4 linked regions of the Homo sapiens genome follow. The protein of the gene in region 4 interacts with the protein of the main gene of each other region in a pairwise test. Each region holds a gene or a part of one and is shown on either strand. Other genes may lie near its edges.

What was found.
Region 1: the proteins of CCK (region 4) and ARL6IP4 interact in binary tests that used the Homo sapiens proteins (3 or more experiments, as listed by UniProt).
Region 2: the proteins of CCK (region 4) and SPSB1 interact in binary tests that used the Homo sapiens proteins (3 or more experiments, as listed by UniProt).
Region 3: the proteins of CCK (region 4) and NUP54 interact in binary tests that used the Homo sapiens proteins (3 or more experiments, as listed by UniProt).

The regions. Positions count from the first base shown.
Region 1 is NC_000012.12:122,975,971-122,983,444, reverse strand, and holds ARL6IP4 (ADP-ribosylation factor-like protein 6-interacting protein 4), read right to left. Parts: upstream 2,765-7,474; 5' UTR 2,700-2,764; exon of another isoform or gene 2,458-2,699; intron 2,317-2,457; 5' UTR 2,306-2,316; coding exon 2,146-2,305; intron 1,875-2,145; coding exon 1,566-1,874; intron 1,489-1,565; coding exon 1,371-1,488; intron 977-1,370; coding exon 907-976; intron 826-906; coding exon 769-825; 3' UTR 536-768; downstream 1-535. Other genes in the region: OGFOD2 (2-oxoglutarate and iron-dependent oxygenase domain-containing protein 2), read right to left, coding at 4,099-4,362, 4,435-4,692, 4,876-5,003, 6,475-6,574, 6,678-6,791.
Region 2 is NC_000001.11:9,295,863-9,302,901, forward strand, and holds part of SPSB1 (SPRY domain-containing SOCS box protein 1), read left to right. Parts: intron 1-7,039. UniProt on the Homo sapiens protein: Substrate recognition component of a SCF-like ECS (Elongin BC-CUL2/5-SOCS-box protein) E3 ubiquitin-protein ligase complex which mediates the ubiquitination and subsequent proteasomal degradation of target proteins.
Region 3 is NC_000004.12:76,114,164-76,117,436, reverse strand, and holds the end of NUP54 (nucleoporin p54), read left to right. Parts: intron 1-1,942; coding exon 1,943-2,071; 3' UTR 2,072-2,773; downstream 2,774-3,273. UniProt on the Homo sapiens protein: Component of the nuclear pore complex, a complex required for the trafficking across the nuclear membrane.
Region 4 is NC_000003.12:42,257,319-42,263,217, forward strand, and holds the end of CCK (cholecystokinin preproprotein), read right to left. Parts: intron 914-5,899; coding exon 780-913; 3' UTR 508-779; downstream 1-507. UniProt on the Homo sapiens protein: This peptide hormone induces gall bladder contraction and the release of pancreatic enzymes in the gut. Its function in the brain is not clear.

The sequences.
Region 1 (7,474 bases), on a different chromosome or scaffold from region 4:
GCATGGTGGGATGGGGGCATGGAACAGTAATGCTAGTGACACTCACAGTGACGCCAACACGTGAGTGCGGGGCTGACTCTAGGCCTAGCCTGCTTCTAGCTCCTTCCTGGGATGGAACTCAGTTTGCCCTCACAGACCTCAGTGAAACGGGTGCTGTGAGCCTCCCTGCCTCAGAGTGGAAGACACAGCTGGGCAGTGAGAGCCAGACCTGCCACACAGGCCACCCAGCCCCAGCACCTGGCTCTGCACTGCTGCGATCTGTGGAATGAACATGGCAGGGGAAGCCGACTCTCTCCATGCCTGAGTGCATGGCATTTCAGAGCCAGCTCTCTGGGTTTGGGGTTCAGCTGGCATGAGGTCTGGTCCAGGCAGGCTGACCTGAAGAGGAAGGCACAGGCGCTGGTGTGGCCTGTGCTCACGACCACCAGAGGACACCCCAGCTTTGCCCAAAAGCTCCCGGAGCCCTTGTTTTTCCCTGGCAGTCATGTAGCACCCTTCCCTCCCACTCAGCACAAAAAGCCACAGAACAGAGAAAGTCTATCCAGGGGGCCTTTAATAGCTGAGAAGTGCTGCTCTTTCAGATGGGGGTGCCAAGCAGGCCGGTGACCCCAACCTCCACCCCCTGCCCCTGAGAAGAGACTGGGCTGGGCCAGAGACCAATCCACGGGGGAAAGGCCACCAGCACCCATCAGGCTTCCCACTGGCACCCTGAAACCTGCCCAGGCTGGGCCGCCAGCGTCGTCCACAGGCCTTGGCCAGCGGGGGCCCTCAGGGAAGCAACCCAGCTCGCATCTGGAAGGCCAGGCAGTCCCCTCGGGTGGCTTGCTGGGGAAGAAAGCACACAGGAGGAGGGGTACATCACAAACAGAGCTGGGGGCGGATGGCAGGCAGAGGGGCCACACCCACCTTGTTGATCTCTCTGTGTCGTTCTTTGGTTACGATTTCCTCTAGGACCTCGCCATCTCCCTTAATAAGCCTGGGGGTGGGAGGGTCTCCGTTCAGCAAGGAATAGGCAGGTCCCCTAATGCCAGAGGAGCAGAACCACAAGCAGCCGGCAGAGGGGTCCCAGGGCTCCCACCCCGCAGCCTTGAGTGGACAGACCCTGGGGCCTCACCCACTCTCCCTGATGAAGGCAGTGGAGCTGGGCTCTGCCTTGCCAGCCTCAGCCCGGCCAACAACAGCCCTTTCAAGAGCCTCCTCCAGGCCCTTCCAGCCCCTGCAACTACTTACTCCAAGTGACCGTATTTTTGCCCACATTTGGCCTTTTTCAGGCACCAGGAACCCCGCCCGGCCCCACTCCTCCCGAGAGCACACATCTTCAGCCAACACTCCCAGATCCTGTGGTGTAAGTCAGGCCGAAAGCTCCCCACCTGGTGCGCCCCGTCTCAGGGTCCACCACCTTGCGGATGATGCTCTGCCGGGCATCCCACTCCTCCTTGGTCATGGGCTTCATGGCCTGGATTCGGGACTTCTGCTCATCCGTCAGGACTGGAAGGGAAGACGGAGGTGGTGGCCAGGCCTTGGGAAGCGACCTTCTCCCTCTCAGGTGCTGGGCAGCACAGTACCTGGGCCATCCTCTTCCTCCCCAGCTGATCGGTGCCACTGGTCCAGCGAGGGGCCCGGCAGAGCCTCCACCTGCTGTGCTTCCGCCTTCTCCTTGCCCTTCTTCTTCAGCTTCTTCCTCTTCTTCTTCTTCTTCCTCCTCTTGTCCTTGTACTTCCCCCGCTTCTTCCGGCCATCACTGGAGGAAGAGGAGGAGGACGAGGAGGAAGAAGAGGAGCTAGAAGAACTGGAAGAAGAGGAGGAGGAGCTGGATCTTGTTCTCCTCCGGGCCTTCTGCTTGCTTCTCTCTGTGATGCAGGGAGAAGGTGAGGCTGGAAGGCCAGGAGGGGAAGAGGTAAACCTTCGTCCCCTGCTCTGGCCTGGGGCAGGCACAGACCGGCTACAGGGTGAGCGCTTCCTGAGGGGCTTTCCAGAACAGAGATGGAGCTTCCCAGAGGAGCCCCTTCCTGGCTCCTGCGGCGCCTGGCCCTCACATCTCAGGCCCGGCTGCACAGAGGCATGACTGAGCGTCCCCGACCACTGCTCGCCCGACTTCCCCGGGTAGTAACTGCGCCTCCTCTCCCCGATGCCTGTGGTCCTCACCCTCCGCCCCAGGGGCCGTGCTGGCCTTGCGACCTTGGGATGTGGAGGCCGAGCAGTTCCTCGAGGTGTCTTTCCTGCTCTTCTTCTTTCTCTTTTCCGACCCCCGTCCCCGGGACCGGCTGCGACTCCTCGAGCGCTTGCGGGAGCCGACGTGAGCCATGGCGCCGCGGGCTGGCGACGAAGAAGACGCGCTTGAGCCGAAGCCCCCAAGGCCGGCCGCGGGCGGGCTCCAAGGGTGGCTCTAGCGGGGCCGGGGCCTGGCGACGCCCAGTACCCGTCACCGTCCCGGGAAAATGAGCGACCCTCACCCACCCCCAGCGCTGGGGACCCCGGTTTTCTCCGCCGACTCCAGTCCCCGCAGCGGTGCCTGTTAAGGGCCCGCCCCGTGCCCGGAGGCCCCACGCCTGCGCACCCGGCTCCAAACCCCTGGGAACTGGCCGCCGTCCGCCGCGAGTGGCGTCTGGGGCGCTTTCCCGCGCTCTCCTACCCTCCAGCCCCGCGCCCTTCGCGGCCTCGCCGCCTCAAGGGGGCCCCCGGGGCTGCTCCGTTCCCACCTCGACCGCCCTGCGGGCCGGACAGCCCGCCCCGCGCCTTCTCGAGAGGAAGCGGCGGCGAGGAGGCTTCCGGCCGGGGCGCTGCGCGGGAGGCTGGCCGGCTGGGAAGCGCGGCGCCGCTGCCTTTCGTTCTGACGCCCCAGGTTCCGTCCCGGGCGCGCCCACCTCCCGCAGAGGCAAGCAGGGGCGCCGGCCCTCGAGCTCCGCAGCCCCTCACGCCTGTGTCTGCCGAAGCTGCGCCCACTTCCAAGGCTGCCCTCTCGGCGCACGCCCGCAGCACCCACGCCCCCGGTGCCCTGGGAAGAAGGCGACCCTCGCGCGCGCCGCCCTCCTCCCCGGCTGGTCCTGCCCTCTCCATACGACTGCGAGCTCCAGACTGAGGCGCCCTGGTCTTTCCGACGCGCCCACCCAGTGACTCAGAGGTCGCAAACTCGTGTCCGTAGGGGCCAGAAAGATCTTGGCAGTGAGCGCGGGCATGGACCCCAGGCCCATCCGGAAGGAAGCCAGGATTCTGCTCCAGCTGATACGTGCAACGTGGCATGGGGCTGGTGCCCCACCTTCCCAGGGAGACCAAACTCAAGACTGCAATATGGAAGCCCCCTGAGTTTCAAATGTGTAACCCAAAGCGTGGCTGTGCGCTTCATCCAATCTCGGGCCCCCAAGTTGCAACTCTTCCACAATGACAGCCGCAAACACAAAGGGATCTTGCAAAGCACTTTATATACGTCAGCGCATTTGACTCCCAAAACAGCTCTAGGAGGTAGGTGCTAAATGAGGAAACGAAGGCACCAAAAGGTGAAGGCTCACCTAAAGCCACACAGCTGGAAGTGGCAGAAGCAGAATGGGAACCCGGGCAGCCTGGTTCCTGGCCCTGCCATTCACCCCTCTGCCATCTAGAAGATGCTACTGGTGGCCCACCCGAGTCCACTGGGGGGTGATGCCTGCTGCTGAGGGTTCACATCTGTGCTCTCTGGAGGCTTCCCTTGGCTACTGGAAGGCACCCTGCCCTGGAGATAAGTGTCTGGGAAGTTATTCACTCCTCTCTGGCCCCCTCATCCAGGAGCCAGTAACCGGTGGTGTGGGCACACTGTGGTACTGTGGGCTCTGCCTGGAGCTCTCCGTGGGGCCAGCTGAGGCTGGACGTCCTCTGAAGCCACTTCCTTGCCCAGCTGCTCCCTCCCCTCCCCTGCTTCCCTGACTCCCTCGCTGAAGCCCCATTCCAGACCCTGCTTCTGACAAACCTGAACTAAGGCAGCATCTTTGCCCATAGAATGACCCAGAAGCTGGCACACCGTTGAGCCAAGAAGTGCAGTAGGCTGCGGGGATTTTATTTCTGCCCCCAGACCAAGGCAACGGAGCCCTCACCTGCCTGCCACCCCCACACTGGGCCCAAGCAAGCTCAGGTGAGCGCACATACATCCACCGTGGCGGGCTCCTCTCGGGTGAAGCCATCACCGAAGCCCTCATCGTCCACCAGGTCGGGCTCACGGCAGCACATGGGACAGAGGCTGTTGCGCACAGCAGAGGCTCGGAGCCAGACGACAAGGTTCCAACGCTCACCAGTGCCCAAGGGCCGGGCTCCATGCAGCTGGCCGCCACGGTGGAGGACACCCTGGCCCACCACGTGCTCCACCTCCAGGGGCTCCGTCAGGGCTGTGGGTGCCTGCAGATGGCACGACTCAGGCCTGGGCACTCACAGCTGCCCCAGGCCCTGCCGCATGGGTCACACACTCACCTGGAAGAGGCCCCCAAAATACAGGGCGCCCCCTGTGAAGACCTTGCCCAAGGCCACATTGAGGGTGAGCTCGGCATTATCATAGTGGCAGCCCAGCTCCAGGTCCTGGCCCGGTGCGTATTTGACCACAAAGGCCCGGTGGCTGTCGAGCCGGCCCCCGCCACAGTCAGGGTACAGCAGGGCCATCAGCGGCTGCAGGAAGCGCTCCCGCAGTGGTGTCATCAGCGGCTCGTCCAGCCCGAGCTCGTGCAGCAGCACCTGGGAGGGGATTCCTGGGGTCAGCAAGGAAACTAGAGGGCTGCAACCCTGGGCTTCCACTCCACGGTGATCCCACTGTGACCTTCTTTCGCAGCCCGGGCAGGCAGCCCATCTGCAGAACCTCTGACACTGCCTCCTGACCCCAGCCACCCCCTCCTCTGCCACCGGCCAGGCCTCACCCACCCCGTAGTTGTTCATGGTGTTGGGCCTCCCCTTAGGCATGTCCGATTGCTCGAAGTGCTCCAGCTCTTCCAGCAGGGCCTGGCAGAAGGGCGCTGTGAAAACAGGCACCCGGTAGATGCGCTTCTCCTCTGTGGAAGGAGGGATGGTCTGTTGGCCTGAATGTGGCCGTGGGCCGGCCAGGCCTGGGCTTCAGTCTTCCTGTTTCATCACCTGTGCCATGGAGATGAGGCCTTTGCTTTTCAGGGCTATTGTGATGACTTAAGGAAGTAACATGAGGAGCAGGGGAGGCCGATTCCCATGCCCCCCACTTATGCCCGGAACCTTTCCCCAGACTCTACAAGTGTCCACAGGGCTGGCCCTGGGAGCTCACATATGGGTCCTGAGGCCCAGAGAGGGGAAGGAAGTAGCCCAGGGACACCCAGCAGGCCAGTGACAGCCAAGTCGGGATCACAGAGCCAACTTCAGGCTCTCTCTGCACCTCCTTTCATCTGATGAGCCACCGAAGTCTGTACCCCAACTCAGAAGTGGCTCTGGGAGCCTCTGTCCCCCAGCAGGAAGGCCAGAAGGGGCTGTTCTTTCTTGCTGGGCCCTGAGGGGGAAGAAACCAGGCTGAGAATGGAAACCTAAACATTTCTTGGCGGACGCACCAATGCCCAGGGGTGCAGGGCTAGTGTGCCCACGATGGGGCCACCTCGCAGCCTAGGCCCTGCCCCAGCCAACAGCCTCAGCACTATCTCAGCTGCCGGGGAGTGGAAGGCAATGAGGAGAGCACCCCCAGGCTGGGAGGAGGGGGATTCATTCCACCCATGACTCCCAACAAAGCACAGGCTCCATGAGGGGAAACTTGTATCTGCCTCCCACAGGAGCCCCTAGCCCAGGCTATCAGTGCCAATAAGAATAGGAAACACTTTCCAAACACTACGTGCGGGCCCTGTGACAGGCACTCTATGCAGATTAACTCACTTGATCGTCGCAGTGCCTTAAGAGAGGGGGTTACTGTTGCTCCCATTTTACAGATGAGGAAACTGAATCAGAGGTTAAACAACACGCAAACCTCCCTTGCCCAGCATTTCCTGCTGGGTTTAGCCAATAAGTGAGCCCAGCAAGAAATCCGAAGAGAAGTGGGGCATTTTTTGCCCTACTTGGAGTTTGGCATGGCCGCAGGCCTCCGCCCAGAGCCACAACTCCAGGTGGTAACTGCTCCCTCCTGTTGCCAGCCCTGGGGGGCCGGGCTTTGCCATTCCTTACTGGTCCCTTTATCCTGCCCATACCTGTCTCAATGGTCCCTTTAAGATCTTGGATCAGCCCTGTTTGAGTGTGCCAGCTGTCCCACACATGACACAAATATCCACTATTTGCTGGATGAGGGCACGAAGGAAGGGTGAAGGAAAGAATGAAGATACCAGGCTCATGGCAGGTATTGAATGAATGAATGCGGATGTCCTGCTCCTGGCAGGTTGGTCCCACTGACCCTTCCAGCTCCTGCTGGTTTGGTTTTTGGAGGCAGAGATGGTGGCTGGAGGGACCCCAGCATCCCACACCCAGGTTTCCCAGGCTGCCATTCCCTGGTCCTGCCAGGTCTCAGGGCCAGGACCTCACCCGATACTGTCTCCAGCCGCTGGAGAAGGCCCTTGAGGTCTGCGTCTGGGGACACGCTGTACTCAGTCACGGCCAGGAACTCGGGGGCCAGAGCTGCATCCTGGGAGCAAAACACACCAGCTGTGGGGCAGGCAGCACCCCCAGCCCTGGATGCTACCTCCTCTTTCCAGTACCGGCCTTCAAGCACTCTGGCTGGCTGGTACCTGCAGTGAGTCGTAGACCTCAGGCCGTGCCGGGTGGTAGGAACTCGCGATGAGGGCTTTCCTAGCTGCTGACTCCTGCCCCAGCCGCTGCCGCCGCTCCACCTCCTGCTCAAGCTGGGGTGGCACAGGGTTGTTACCAGGTGGGGCCTCCCATCCTCCTGAGGCCACTGTACAGATGAAGAAACTGAAGCCCAGAACGCCAGACAGGGCCCAGGCTGGAAGCCAAGTCTAGCCTACACTCCTGAATCTATCTGGGTCAACTGCAAGTTCCAGACTGTTAGCTGAAAGGGACTTCTAGAAGGGGACCCATCCTGTTTCAGGCTGCCCCAACCTGAGCCTAGCTGGGATGAGAACCCCTAGATGTACCTCAACCATCTGGGCCCACACAGGGACAGGAGACAGTCATGGCCAAGTCCTGTGTTCCAGAGGTTGCTGAGGACTCTCCTGGGAAGCTTCCCACCACTGACTCCAGGGGAAGGAGGAGGAGGGAGTGGGGCAGCAGCCCTGGCAGCAGCCTGCGGGGTATATGGTAAGGTGTGAGGAGCCCAGGGGCCTGGAAGCTGTGGCTGGGATCACATCTGCTCCTGCTGTAAAAGCTTGGGCAAGGGATCCCTCTTTAAGCCTCAGCTTCTCAATCCAAAATGAGAGTGGTGCTTGTGCTTATCTCACAGAGCTGTTAAGAACGGCATGACTAGGCAACTTAGCAACTTAGCATTTCCCCTTCTCTCTCCTGGTGCCAAGACTCAGGTGTGGAGGGATGAGTGGGGGGCAGGAAGGAGGAAAGTGAGGGCCTAAGT
Region 2 (7,039 bases), on a different chromosome or scaffold from region 4:
TCAGTGTATCTTTTGGTTCTGAAAAATTTTATCAGACGACAGCACAAGGTCAGGTACAGGTGTGCCTCAGTCTGCCCAGGGGTGTGTTATCCTCTCCCCAGCCCTCAACACTAGATCAGTGAAATCCAGACTCTAAGGGACTTCGATTTTGGACTTTCAGTGAGTGCTCTCCCCTCCCCCAGTTATCTGATAACATCTCCCCCAGTCTAAAGTTCCACTGGCAGCCAGGTGCCCGGCTCTGTGCTACAGAGTGCTTTATGGACGTGACTTTGTTTGAATCCTAAGCATAATAATAGCGGGAAATGGTTTCATGGTTTCACGGTGCGTGCGAGTACTGGCTCTGATCTGAGTCCTTGACGCATTGACTCATGGGCTTCCTGAGGACCCTGAGAAGTGGGTTTTGCCTCCATGTCCATTCTGCTGAGGATTGCAGGTAACTTGGCTAAGGTCTCGCGGCAAGGGAATGGTGGAGCCAAAACTCGAATCCAGACTTGGCACCCAAGCCCTTCACCAGTAAGTTTGTCACCTCCACCACCTGAGCCTTTTCTTCAAGAAGCATGGGCTCATTTTTTTAGTGAAATTTTTTGTTATTATGGAAAATGTCAAACACACCAAAGTTAGAGGCAGAGTATAATGAGCGATCAGGTTTCCTCACCTCGCATGCACACACATACACATACTCACATATGCACATGCATACTTATGCTCACAGAAGATGTGCACATGTGTACACACACATACATATGCACACACATATATGCACACATACACACACACGCTGGATTATTTTGAAGCAAATACAAGATGTCAGGTCATCTGTAGCTTCTTCCTAAGAAGCATTTAAAGGAAGCATCACATCTCAAAGAGGTTGACTGTTACTCTATGCGGGGCAAGAGTCGGGAGATGTACGTCCTTTCTGACTTGGGCTTGAGGCTCCTTCCTTGCTTGGACAAAGGGAGGATGGCAAAACCCAACAGCACATTGGGGGATCTGTCCTGCTGCCAACCCCCTGAAACCTTTGGGAAGCTGCCTGTTTGCTTTGTGTTTTAAAAGTTCTGTTCATTGCCCAACGTTAAAAATAAATGAGTCCAGTGGTCATGAGACAGACCACATCAACAACAGGCTTAGGCTCTCGGGGCCTTTCTTGGAGATGGGGAAGAGAATCCGCCAAGGCACAGCCCAGCCTTGCCTGCCATTGAGGTCCAGACCTTGTGCAATGCAGGCATGGGATTTGTGGCAGGGCTGGGTGTCAGGAGATGTGACTGTGAGAATGGTTTGTCAACAAGCTCTGAATCTGACCTGAAGCTTAGCCTGACCCTCTTGAGTTTACTGCGTAGGCGATGGGTGGAGGAATCCAAGAACCTCTGCCACCCTTGGGCGTCTCTTGGAAAACTAGGGAGGCATTGGGTGATTTGAGCACAAGATGAAGAAAATATCAGGATGCAAACTCCACACTTGAGAAATGACTGCTGAGTAGGAATATAGGATTCCAGGGTTGGAAAAACCTACCTGTGACAAGGGCTTGACGGGTGCCCCAGTTGTGAACACACCTTGCCAGACAGTCAGAGTGTGGCCAATCTGGTCACACCCTTTCCAAGGTCAGAGTGAGGAGCTGCACTCCACACCAAGAGAACCACTTGAGTTTTCTAATTTATACAAGCAGACACCAAGGGAGCATGTGTGGGAGTGGATATTAGGATGTGGAACGAACATGAAGTTGGATCTGGCCGAATTTATGGATATGGGCCCACTAAGCGGAGATTCTGCACTTGATGTTGTAGCTCAGGGGGTTAAGAAGAGATCTGTTTGGTTGGCTGACTGGAACATGGATCAAAGGATGACCCACTGTGAGTAAGTTGGAGTTTCTGGGTCTCCTTTGGTTTAATGTAGAGTTAGGGATTCATAGGCTTAGGTTTCATGTAGAGTTAGGGATTCAAAGGCTTAGGGACATTGGAATGCTGGAGTGGATTTGTCTCTTAAAAGCTACTCACCCACACTGGGAAGGTTCAGAAGACAGATCTTTCACGCATACGTTGAGAAATAGATTTGTGAGGGGGCCCCAGCATCCCTGAAGAGCTCCGTGATCCAGCCCTTACAGTGGGAGCCGCAGTCACTCAAATGGAAAACTTAAATGCAACGGGAGTAATTGCATTTGGAGTGCAGCGGCCAAGTGGCAGTACTCAGCCATCCAAGGCAAGGTGAGTGTGGTTACCTAATGGACGGCAGAGGCAAAGCTGCCGTCAGAATAGTCTGACTTGTGTGGATCTATGGCATTGGATAGTTAATCATGGTGTTCCTAGAAGTGAAATAGACAGGAAACCCGTGAAATTCTTACTTGATCTTATAAGTTACTTGATTCTTTTAAGTTTTCTGTATAAGCAGAAACTTACAGGTCAAATGAAAAAAAGTCTAACTTGAATAATTAAAACAGAAAAATAATTAAAACAGAAAATCACAGCCCTCAATCAACTTCCCAGACTTAACCCAGTTTACACAACTAAGCCCCCATGAATGAATGAATGAGTGAATGAATGAATGAGTGAACGAATGAATGAATAAGTGAACGAATGAATGAATAAGTGAATGAATAAGTGAATGAATGAATGAATGAATTGGAAGCTGGATCCCTTTGAAGAAGGACCTCAGTACACTAGAGAAAGTTTATGCTATTAATTTTTCTCCTAGCCTTCCCCAAAGGGACCTGTGACCTTTTACCAGAGTGAATATGTATTGAGGAAAGGGAAATAATTAGATTGTTCGGGGATAACTGGTTACTGAACTGATACTGATTCCAGGAAACCAAAAATATCACTCACTGTGGCCCACTAGTCAGAGAAGGGGCTTATGGAGGTCAGGTGATCAATGGAGTTTTAGCTTAGGTTTGACTCCTGGTGGCTCCCGTGGATCCCTGAACCCATCCTGGGGTTATTTCCTGGTTCCAGATTCAAAGTTGACATACTTAGCACCTGGCAGAATCCACACACTGGTTCCCTGCCTTGTGCGGTGAGGGCTGTTATGGTGGGAAAGGCCAAGTGGAAACCATTAGCGTTGCCTCTGCCTGGGAAAATAGTACATCAAAAGCAACATTGCATCCCTGGGGTGGGGCTGCCGAGATTAGCACCACCATCAAGGACTTGGAGGAGGCGGGGGTGGTGACCCCCACCACATCCCCATTCAACTCTCCGATTTGGCCTGTGCAGAAGACAGATGGACTTTAGAAACTGATAGTGGATTATTGTAAACTTAACCAAGTGGTGACTGCAAAATTCACACATCTCTGGTCCCTGCTACTGCATGCAGCTGTTGATCTGACGAATGCCCTTCTCTTTATACCTGTCCATAAGGCCCAGCAGAAGCAGTTTGCATCCAGCTGGTAAGGCCGGCAATGCCCCTTGGCGGTCTGGGCTGATGGGTATATCAGCTCTCCAGCCCTATGTCACAGTTTAGTTCACAGTCATCTTGATCACCTTTCCCTTCCACAGATATCATACTGGGGCTGGGCACGGTGGCTCACTCCTGTAATCCTAGCACTTCAGGAGGCCGAGGCAGGAGGATCGCTTGAACTTAGGAGTTTGAGACCAGCCTGGGCAACACAGTGAGACGTCATCTCTCTCTCTCTCTCTCTCTTTTTTTGAGATGGATTTTTTGCTCTTGTTGCCTAGGCTGGAGTGCAATGGTGCAATCTCGGCTCACTGCAACCTCCGCCTCCCGGGTTCAAGCAATTCTCCTGCTTCAGCCTCCTGAGTAGCTGGGATTACAGGCATGCGCCACCACACCCAGCTAATTTTTTGTATTTAGTAGAGACAGGGTTTCACTATGTTGGTCAGGCTGGTCTTGAACTCCTGACACCAAGTGATTCACCCGCCTTGGCCTCCCAAAGTTCTGGGATTACAGGCATGAGCCACTGCGCCCGGGCCGACATCATCTCTATAAATTTTTTTTTTTTTTAAATTAGCCAGGCATGATGGTGTGTGCCTGTGGTCCCAGCTACTTGGGTGGCTGAGGTGGGAGGATCGCTTGAGCCTAGGAGGTCAAGACTTGCAGTGAGCAGTGATTGTGTTACTTTACTCCAACCTGGGCAACAGAGTAAGACCCTGTCTCAAAAAAAAAAAAAAAAAAAGGGTCTCATGCTGGTCCATTACATTGATGTCATCATGCTTCATTGGACCTAGTGAGCAAGAAGTCGCAACCACTGTAGCCTTATTGGTAGGACATTTACATGTCAAGCGATGGGAAATAAATTCTACTGAAATTCGGGGACCTTCTCCCTTAGTGAAATTTCTCGGGGTCCAGTAGTGTCAGGCCTGTGAAGGTATCCCCTCTAAGGTGAAGAATAAGTTGTTACAGCTTTCCTCCTGCAACCAAGAAAGAGGCACAATGCCTCGTGGGCCTGTTTGGACTTTGGAGGCAACACATTCCTCATTTGGGTGTGTTACTCCAGCCCATTTGCTGAGTCACCCTAACGCTTCTAGTTTTGAGTGGGGCCCGTAGCAGAAGACTGCAACAGGTCCAGGTTGCTGTGCAACCTGCTTTGCCACTTGGGCCACCAGCAGATCCAGTGGTGGTTGAGGTCAGCGGCAGACAGGGAGGCTGCTTAAAGCCTTTGGCAGGCCCCTGTAGATGAATCGCAGTACAGGCCTTGGGATTTTGGAGCAAGGCCCTGCCATCATCCACAAATAACTTCATTCCTTTTGAGAGACAGCTCTTGGCCTAATACTGGACCCTAGTAGAGACTTAATGTTTGACCATCAGCCACGAAGTTGCCATGTGACCTGAGCTGCCCATCATGAAGTGGGTGTTATCTATGATCTGACCGACCAAACCAGACATTGGGCATGTGTGGCAGAACGCTGCCATCGAGAGGAAGTGGTATATATGGGATCAGGTCTGAGCAGGTCCTGAAGGCACAAGTAAGTGACATGAGGAAGTGGTCCAAAGGCCCATGGTTCTTACTTTGCCCACTGCCTTCTCTCTCCAGCCTGTATCTATGGTCTCCTGGGGAGTTCCCTCTGATCGATTGACAGTGGAAGAGAAGACTTAGTCAGCCTGGTTTGCAGATGGCTACAGATGGCTCTGCACTATATGAAGGCACAACCCGAAAGTGGACAGCTGCAGCACTATAGCCCCTTGCTGGGACACCTCTGAAGGATGGGGGTGAAGGGAAATCCTCCCTGGCAGAGCTTCGGGCAGTGCACCTGGTTGTGCACCTTGCTTCGAAGGAGAGATGGCCAGATGAGTGATTATATACTGATCCATGGGCTGTGCCTGATGATTTGGCTGGATGGTCAGGGATTTGGGGACTTGGAAAGAGTATGATTGGAAGATTGGTGACAAAGAAAGCTGGGGGCCTGGCATAGTGGCTCACACCTGTAATCCCAGCACTTTGGGAGGCCAAGGTGGGAGGATTGCTTGAGCCCAAGGAGTTCGAGACCAGCCTGAGCAACATAGTGAGACTCCCCGCCCCCGCCATCTCTACAAAAATAAAAAATTAGCTGGGCGTGGTAGCTCATGCCTGCAGTCCCAGCTACTTGGGAGGCTGAGGTGGGAGGATCACTTGAGCCTAGGAGGTTGAGGCTGCAGTGAGCTGTGATTGCTCCAGCCTGGGCAACAGAATGAGACCCTGTATCAAAAAACCCAACCAAACAAAAAAGCAATTGGGGGAAGATGTATGTGGATAGACCTGAGTGCGCACAGGACACGGATAGACCTCCCGAGTGCGCACAGGACATGAGGTATGTGGGTAGGATGACCTAGGTGGATTCTCGTCAGCCTCTTTCCCTGGCCACCCCTGTCATCGCCTGGTGGGCTCAGGAACAAAGTGGTCATGGTGGCAGAGATGGAGGTGATGCATGGGCTCAGCAGCATGGACTGCCACTCACCAAAGCCGACCTGGCTATGGCTACCACTGGCTGCTAGTCTGCCAGAAGCGGAGACTAACACTGAGCTCCAGTATGGCCCCATTCCCCGGGATGATCACTGCACCTGGTGGAAGGCACATTGGACCACTTCTGTTTTGGAAGGGGCAGCGTTTTGTCCTTACTGGAGCAGGCACTTATTCTGGATACAGATTCGTCTTCCCTGCACACAGTGCTTCTGCCAAAGTCACCATCCATTGATTGACAGAACACCTTTCCCACTGTCACGCTGTCCGTGTAGCACTGCTTCCAGGGAGCTCACTTCACAACCAAGGAAGTGTGGCACTGGGATCATGTGCAGGGAATTGGCCGGTGAGCACGAGCCCACTGGTTTCGCCTATCATGCTAAGTGGAACTACGGTCTTGTTATTGCCTTTATTTGGAAATTAAGTATGGTTTAAGAAGATGCCAGTGGGTGCCTATGGGTGCCAGTTGGTAAGGGGTGGACCTGTGATGATTGATTTTGGATGTCAACTTGACTAGATTAAGGAATACCCAGGTAGATGGTAAAGCATTGATTATTCTCTATGCTTCAGTACACACTGAGCCTGTCCCTTTTCTGCTGACAGGGAAGCCCAGTGGTTTGACATTGTGTAGAATGATCGGGCTGCCCCAGATGTGTCTGTGAGGGTGTTTTTGGAGGACACTGGCAATTGAGTCACTCAACTGGGTGGGGAGGATCTGCCCTCCATGTGGGCAGGCACCATCCAGTCAGCCGGGGGCCTGGAAGAAGGGTGAATCCTGGCTCTCTGTCCCGGAGCTGGGATGCTCTTCTCCTGCGCTTGGATGTCAGAACTCCAGGTTCTCTGGCCTTTGGACTCTGGGACTCGTACGAGTGGTCTCCGGAGTCTTTGACCTGGGACTGGGAATGACCACGTTCCCCACCATCCTGAAGCAGCTGACTTGAAAGAAGGGCAGTAGAGTCTTTTGAAGTTGCAATTACAATGCCAGCTAGGTGACAATACTTTGTAGGGCTGGGTCAGGGGTCTTCAAAAGGCTCTATGTACTCTGTATCAGCATCCAATATATGGTGCTGGTTTCTCCCGTAGCCAGGATTCACGGGTCCAGGAATCAAGGGGAGGAAATGGGAGTGGCACTGCGCATCATATCCCCTAGGGACCCGC
Region 3 (3,273 bases), on a different chromosome or scaffold from region 4:
TGGATATATACCCAAGTACGTTGGAAGCAGGGACTCAAAACATATTTGTACACCCATGTTCATAGCATCTTTATTCACAATAGTCAAAATGTGGAGATAACCCAAGAATCAATCAAAGAATAGAGAAACAAAATGTAGTATATAGACACACAATGGAATATTATTCAGCCTTGAAAAAAGAATGAAATTCTGACACATGCTACAATGCAATTTGACCTTGAAGAAGTTATGCTTCATGAAATAAGCCACTCATAAAAGGGAAATATTTATGATTTCACTTATGAAAAGTACCTAGTAGTCCAATTAATAGAGAGTAGAAAGGTGGTTGCCAGGGTGTGAGGGGAGGAGGGGATGGGAGGAACTTAACTGGTACAGAATTTCAACTTGAGAAGATGAAAAGTTCTAAACAAAGTGGATAGTGTTGATTATTGCACAACAGCATAAATGTACCTAATGCCACTGAACTGTATACTTAAAAATAGTTACAGGCAAAATTTTATGGTATGCCTGTTTTGCCACTGTTTAAAAAAGTGAATTATCCCTCTCCTCGCCAAAAAGATGAATTTAGAGGTAGTAGAGACACTAAAGTTTCCTAGACCTTGCTCCTTAAAGTGTAGGTAGTAGCCGCACCTGGAAGGTCATTAGAAATGCAAAATTTCAGTCCTTACTCCAGACGTACTCAATCTGCATTTTATCAAGATCATAGAATGATTTGTATGCACTTTAAAGTTTGAGAAGCAACTGCTCTAGATAATACCTTCCCTGCCTATATGTCGCATGTAAGTTATAAACATTTGGTTATTGATCTGTCCCCTAAGCTCTCAGGAGATCTGGATGGAGGTAGGTTGAGGTGGCCAGAACCTCCAACCACTTTTCTAGGGTTTTCACATTGTGTGAAAAAGTTGGGAAACACTGCTTTGGCTTATTTTCATTAGTATAAATGCAGATTGGTTTAATGAAAATGAACAGTTGTATCTAAAGAAAATATATGAAGATGATGAACTTTGTGGAACATACTAGGTAGCTAATGACTGTTGGCATGGCCCTGAGGATTTTAGATAAAGATTATAAATGTCATCAACAAATCCAATTTTATTATGTTAGAATGGATATGGCTGGTTTTATGCAACCAAAAACTACTTTGGCTTCCAGGTTCTTGGATATTACACACATAACCAATTATATTCCATTGTTTTAAGTATTTGCAATAAATTAACAGGTTCCAGTATATTGAAATAAATAGTTGTATTAAATAGAGTTGATATATGCAATAAAACTGGGAATAATTTAAACACCTGTCTTTTTTAAAATTATGAGCAGTGTATTGTTTTGGGATTGAATCATGGTTCACCATCTACTTTATGACCTTGGGCAGGTTATTTACCTGTAGTTTCTTTAACTGTCGAGATGATAATGGTACCCCAAAGGGGGCTCAAAAGGATTTTAAATGAGTTAAGTGAGTGAATACCAGTACTGTTAAAACAGCACCTTAACCCATGAGGAGGAGTCTTAAAAAAATGTTAGCATCTGTAGTCATCACCACCATTATCACTATGTACTTTGTACTTCAAAACATGAATATTCTCAGTTTTCAGAATGTTATTTTGCTAGTCATCTATATTTGAATACCTCCTTTGAGTTCTGTTTTATTATCATGCCTTTATCAAAAGTTGGTAAAAGGAATAGCTATCTAAAAAACATTTTTGTTGGAAGATATTGTTCATTATATATTTGTTTGATTTTATTGTTCTTTAGAGTTTGTCTTTCACTGTTAGCAAAAGATGTAGTACAAATGTTTAAATATGCATGCCCTCTATATTTAGAGCACTTACTAGGTACTGTGTTGCTAGTAAAATAGTCAAAGTGGAGTCTTTTTTCCTGTGACTAGCTTGCAGTTTTAAGAAATTAATACATTAATATGTTGTTTCTTAATTTGTTCTAGCATTTGAAACAACAACAGGAAGGCCTTAGCCATTTGATTAGCATCATTAAAGACGATCTAGAAGATATAAAGCTGGTCGAACATGGATTGAATGAAACCATCCACATCAGAGGTGGTGTCTTTAGTTGACAGTTCACAAACTTGTGTAAAGGTTTGTGAAATGCATCTTCTTACTGCATCAGACCTTCCTTAAGAATGAAACCGACCACATGGAGGGAAAAAGAAAACAATTCTTTCTTGGATTGGTTTTTTGAGAAGTTTACTGACAAATTACTGTTCATCAAATCTGAAATAGTCACCTCACAGCTCTTCAAAGAAAACCTTTGAAAGATTTATATCTAAAAGCTGTATTTACTTTAAAAGAAGTGCATAATTACCAAAATTGTATGTACTATTGTACATTTTTACAACAGCATTTTCTTAAACATAATCTGTGTTTAATGATTATTGTCCATTGAGCCTGTACTCTGCTTTCCATACCAAGTAAATATGAAATAATCTACTTTGCACATAACAGAACAAACTATAATTACTTGGCTGTTGGAGATTTGTACTTGAGTATAAATGTACACCAGTTTTTGTATTTGTGAACTCATCTGTGGGAGGAGTAAAGAAAATCCAAAAGCATTTAATGTTTTGTTTTTGTTCTATAAAGATATGAAAATGTATTTTTATATTATTTTACTTATTTGGAATTTACAGAGCACACCTAAGCAATTAGGATATAACAAAACTACTTAACCATTTTTGCAACCATTTTGTTTTTTAAGCCTTTTTATTTCTAAAAAGATGAAAACTTATAAATAAATTCTTAATTTGTAATTACTTTTATATAATTCTGTCTGGTGCTTTATTTGGCTTTTGAGGAATGACCATTTTTTGTCCACATAGGTACTAAATTCATAATCACAAGTCAGGAATTTTAGTCTTAAGTCTTATTTTTGCCTCCTAGGGATTTTTGTCAGTGCTGTTATATTTTGATTAGGGTATGGCAAGTAAAACTTACTTCAGATATCATCTAGTATTAAGAATTCCCTAATATGTCATTAGTATTCGAAATACTAGAAAATCTGAGTTAAACAGATTAAGTAGTGTTAAATAGTGGGTCTTTAACCAGTGGATCATTTTAAACAGTATTTCTGACTACACTATATTTGGGCTGCATCATGTTGGCCGCTTTTGAGATGCTTTAACTTTGCACTTCTCTGTGATGCTTTGGCTTGTATTGACAGGTGTTAGAAGAAACAGGCCCATGAATCTTGCTATTGTATTTACTATGGGGATGGTGAAGAGTGTGATGCACTGTATATCTATCTGGAGTCCATCCTCTG
Region 4 (5,899 bases):
GGAGAAGTGCTAGAGTGATGAAGGTCCCGATAGCCTAGGAACATTAAGCCCTCCAGTCTGTGAATCTCCTTAGCTGGGGCATAAGGGGCAGTCACTTTCACTCTTCAGAGCCTGTTTCCTCATCTGTAAAGAAAGGATGATAACTTCTGTGCCACAGAGCCATGGAGTGATCAAATGTATGCAAAACCATGGCCAGTTACTGCCTGTAACTTGTTTAAAGGCCAAGAGAACCCCAAGGAAACCCTGATGGGAGTAGGATTGGTAAATAAGATCGGGGATCAGGGTGGCCAGGGCTGGGCTCTGGAGTTGCCCACAGATGGCCCTTTCACTGTCCACCTGGCCTGTAGCAAAGTTAGCTCCAAGTCTGAGCTGCATTTCCCAAGCCCTTTCTGGGGACATCTACTACAAGGATTTGTCCCAGTGTAGCATCTATCAGGCTTCCCTCCTTGCATGTTCTGAGGACCAAATGGAGCCCTTTGCCCTCAGTAGACGCAGGGAACGACAGGGCAGAATGAAATCACTTTAATAGCATAACAACATTTTCAGACCAGGAGTCACAGATGAAGAAAACATTTTGTCTTCCATTTGCACAATTCTGGTGAGGTGTGTGGTTGCACTGGACAATCTTACAGACACATTTTTCACATTGAGAACTTAATAAATAGATACATACAATGTCAAACTCCACAGACAATGAGTTATGAGTGTGATTGTTTTCTTATTCTGCCTCCTCTGGGTTGGGAGGTTGCTTCCCGTTGGGCTGATGGCGGCTGGGTCCTCTAGGAGGGGTACTCATACTCCTCGGCACTGCGACGGCCAAAATCCATCCAGCCCATGTAGTCCCGGTCACTTATCCTGTGGCTGGGGTCCAGGTTCTGCAGGTTCTTAACGATGGACATTCGTCCAGAAGGAGCTACAAGGAGCAGGGAGGAAGGAAACAGGGACATTGCATCTAAAAGCATCTCTAGTTCAATTTGGGAAGGAGAGCAATGGAAAAAGCCAGACGCAATATAACAGACACCACCTTAAAGGTATCAAAGAGCTATCAAAGTAGTGGAACTGATGGACCAAAATCTGAGAGAGGAGAAGGACCAATGTCTGTGTAACTGGAGAGAGGACAATATATTTACAAGTTAGGGGTGTGCTTTGCGTTCTGCAAGTATTTAGGTGGATTCATTTTCTCTAGCCTTGCAGTCTGGGGACTTGCCTAGATTTTCCTTAGTCTCCCTACCGTTTGCTTTCTTTTGGTAGATGGGTGTTTTCCTTTTGTAGATGGCATCAGCAGAAACCAACCAAAGATTTTTCCAGTACTTAATTGTTCCTAAATTCATCCCTTAATATCCATCAACATTCCTGACTCCTGGAGAGCTCTTGTTATTAAGGTGGCACAATTATAATATCTTGATGTTGGAATGGTTAAAAAAAAATCGTTGGTGGGAGTGTAAATTAGTTCAACCATTGTGGAAGACAGTGTGGCAATCCCTCAAGGATCTAGAACCAGAAATACCATATGACCCAGCAATCCCATTACTGGGTATATACCCAAAGGATTATAAACCATTCTGCTATAAAGACACATGCACATGTACGTTTACTGCAGCACTATTCACAATAGCAAAGACTTGGAACCAATCTAAATGCCCATCAATGATAGACTGGATAAAGAAAATGTGGCACATTTACACCATGGAGTACTATGCAGCCATAAAAAGGATGCGTTCATGTCCTTTGCAGGGACATGGATGAAGCTGGAAACCATCATTCTCAGCAAACTAACACAGGAACAGAAGACCAAACACCGCATGTTCTCACTCATAAGTGGAAGTTGAACAATGAGAATACATGGACACAGGGAGGGGAACATCACACACCAGGGCCTATCGGGGGGTGGGGGTTAGGGGAGGGATAGCATTAGGGGAAATACCTAATGTAGATGACTGGTTGATGGGTGCAGCAAACCACCATGGCATGTGTATACCTATGTAACAAACCTGCATGTTCTGCACATGTACCCCAGAACTTAAAGTATAATAAAAAATAGATAAATAAAGCTCCTTTGCTACATAAATACTCTTTTAAAAATATGAATTTGAAAGTTATATTCAGAAAGCTTTTGTCATTTATCAGTAAGTGTTTTGAGTTGATGATCATTTTATTTTTAATGATAAATCAATATCAATTAAAAATGATATTCAGAAAAAGACTGTCGGATTAAATCTTGGCACCTCAGTAAGACTCAAAGAAGGGGGGGAGAGAGGTGATAACAAAGGTGATTTAAATCAGCAATTTTGACCAAAATGCAATAACTGAACCTGAAATTGTCCCATTGGGATGGAAGTTAAGTCTTCAGGAACAGTGTGATCCTTTTGTAGAGCTCACACTGAGTGAGCAGGGACATGAAGAGGCAGTTTATTTGGAGACATGAGACAGTCCTAGCTCAAAGTTCATAGACAGAAGCCTCCTGGGGTATGAAATCAGCAGAACACCTTCTCCTGTGCAAGCTCAGTCTTAAGAAAGGCCCTTCAGGGACTTCAATGGACAAAGCCCAGGCCAAATCAAGGGTAGAGGAGTGGAGGACCACTCAATGACTCCCACTGTGTTGGGGGCCACTGTATCCCCACCTCCTGTCATGCTGGTCTATATCCCTTCTGCATGAGGCTGCCCTTGCCAGCTCCTACCCATAGGCTGAGTAGAGTCAGACTATGGCTTATGTGTTGATAAATGAAAATGCAAAGGCAGTTACCCTGGGTAATGAAATTAAGCAAGTTTAATTAAAAACAGAAACAACACAGAACAACGTCCCCACCCTTTCTCTCCCCAACCCCAACCCTTCCCAGTTTTGGAACCAACAGTCAATTCAGCACATTTCAGGTCTTTTTGCAGATATCCTCAGCCTACGTAGAAGAAAAATAGCCCCTGCTATTTAATTGTTCATCATTCAGGTGAAATATTACCCTTGAATTCAGGAAAACCTATAGACCCAGTTACCTGTACACAGTCACATGGAAACATGACCCATCCTTCTGCCTGCTGTGATGATGAGTGCCCACTCTAAGGCCTGGGCACAACCCAAATTTCCATCTAATGGAAGCAAGGTGACAGCTTCAATACGAGCAAGCAGCCTCAGTTAACGGTGGGGGCACCATGTTCAGTCATGGAAGCTGCATTTATCACACACCCTGACTTCCCCGTTCCACGTACAGTTCTGTCCTCATGTCATGTGTATTTACCAGGGTCCTCACTCACTTTCCCAGTGCTGACATAGAGTAGGGGCTTACATCTGATGTATGGAATTGATCAAAGCCTGATTCCTATGGGCCACAAGAGATGGACGGGCCTCCCTCTGAATCACACAAAGAATTGGAAGGGGCTTATTGGAAAGCTAGCCTCGGGACTGTCTGCATGTCACTCAGCTAGTGGGCTGCTGAATCACCTTATTCCTGGAGAAAGACTTTGGTGCTGAGAAAACAGTGACTTTCTTAGCTCTTGCTAAAACTGAAGGGTTTAGCTCTTTTAAACTTTAAAATGTGGAATAGGCAGTACAGCTAGGAAGCTGAATGGCTTCCAGGCCCTCCTGGGGGGAGCAGGACTAGATAGAGTCTCAGCCCTGCTGTTGCGTAGATATGCAACTGCATGTAGGTTACTCAGGCTTTTAGAGCCCCAGCTTCCACACTGGCAAAATGGGTATAATAATATTCACTGTGCAGGGCTGTTGTACTGAGAAAGACAATATAGATGTAGCATTGAAGCTTTGCTGGGCATGGGGGAGGCGCACACTAAATGCCTCTAGATATCTTTACCCACTGCCCTCCAATAGAATTGTTTCTTCTTGGGCCATTGAAAGTGCTGCAGATATTTCCTAATGATAAACTCTTAAGTACTGCTCAAAGAATGCATTGTCTTGTTTAGAACTTTTAAGAATAATATATACTATAGTGGAGCAAAAATCTGATATGATCTCAAAATATGTAAAATATTCAAAATATGTAAAATATTCTATATACTGCACATATAGAAACTGTGCAGTATCTATATGTGTAAGTATTTAGTCCTAGTTCATGTTTGTCACATAGAAGAGTTTGCTTGTTTTTTAGCTAGAGTTGATCCTAGGTGTTGGCATCTAAATTTCCAAGTGATTGCTATTCCCTCCTGGGTTTGTTTGGCACAATTGGCTGAAGGCAAAGGGAGAGGGGGGCTGAGAAGAGGGACTAGAAAGAACTTTCCAGCTAAGATTTATGCTATAAGAGCCATTGTCTAGTATTGGTTCTAGGAAATAATTTGGTAATGAGCTTTTTTTTTTTTCTTTTTTTTCCCTAGAGCAATTTTGGAACCAAGACTCAATTCGGCACATTTCAGGCCTTTTTGCAGATATCCTCAGCCTACATAGAAGAAAAACCAGGGTCTTTCCTAAATTGGAGGAGGGGAGTCCAGGTCCACAGTTAAATGAAAAGCCTAGGATATTTCAGACTGGTCTGGCTGAAATTCAGCCTGTATCTGGGGACAGATACTAAATTATTTTCAGGCAGAGAATCAGCAGGAACTCAAAAGCTTTCAGACTTTCTCTCTCCATCTGAGAAGTATTTCTATCTTTTTCAATTTAATTAGCAGGAAAGCAAAACACAAGGTGGTGGGTGGGGCAATTTCCCAAAGACAGGAAGAAATACAACAAATCACTGATTTGTTCTTTCCTTCTGAAGCCTCTGGGTCAGAGTTCCAGTCTTCCCTTCATGTGAACCCACAGAAGAACTCTGCAGAGCCAAAACTCTTCATCTTATCCCTCTCTGGTCAAGCCAGGGGTTAAGGTTCAAATCCAGGCCCTGGAACACCAGTTGGGTAAGAGAGCTTCATGGAAAAGGCAACACACCTACCACATCCCTTCCAGCAGTGTTTGCTAAGTTCTTTTTTTTTTTTTTTTTTTTTTTAGACAGTTTCACTCTTGTTGCTCAGGCCAGAGTGCAATGGCACAATCTCGGCTCACTGCAACCTCCACCTCCCGAGTTCAAGCTACTCTCCTGCTTCAGCCTCCCGTGTAGCTGGGATTACAAGCATGTGCCACCATGCCCAGCTAATTTTGTATTTTTAGTAGAGATGGGGTTTCACCATGTTGGTCAGGCTGGTCTCGAACTCCTGACCTCATGTGATCCACCTGCCTCAGCCCCCCAAAGTGCTGGGATTACAGGTGTGAGCCACTGCTCCTGGCCTGCTGAATTCTTTTAATGTCCAGCTGTGTTTGTACTGTTCAGCACACTGCTCCACAGCCGGTGTTCATCATTAGTGTCACTGGGGATAAAGTTGGCAGAAAAAAGCTGCCCCAATCCAAAGCATGATTCCTATGGGTCACAAGAGATGAATGGGCCTCCCTCTGAATCACACAAAGAATTGGAAGGAGCTTAGGGGAAAGCTAGCCTCAGGTCAGAATTGCCTGCATGCCACTCGGCTAGTGAGCTGCTGAATCACCTTATTCCTGGAGAAAGACTTTGATGCTGAGAAAACTGACTTGCTCAGCTCTTGCTACAACTGTGACCATCTCTGCAACAGTAAAGTAAAAACAAATACCTCTCTTGTTGGGTAATAATTTGTAAGTCATTGCAAGGAGAACACAAAACTGCTGCTGATTCTTTCCTTCTGTTACATACTTTGGTGGAAATGGACACATTGTCACTGCTTTTTTAAACTGTTGTAGCCAGATCTCAGGCATTCTCAGCATTGACCCCTTCCTGCTAGAGGATTTCCAAGGGTTGGTATCTGGGTGGCTCCAAGGTCCTTTGCGTTTTCAGTAGAGGGTATTCACTGTATCTAGGAACCCTTTCCTAGGCTTCAATAATTATCTTTTAATGGCTTGGTAAAATGGTGTTGAACTTAATCAGCAACACTGCTAAAAATTAGTTCAAAGAAAGCT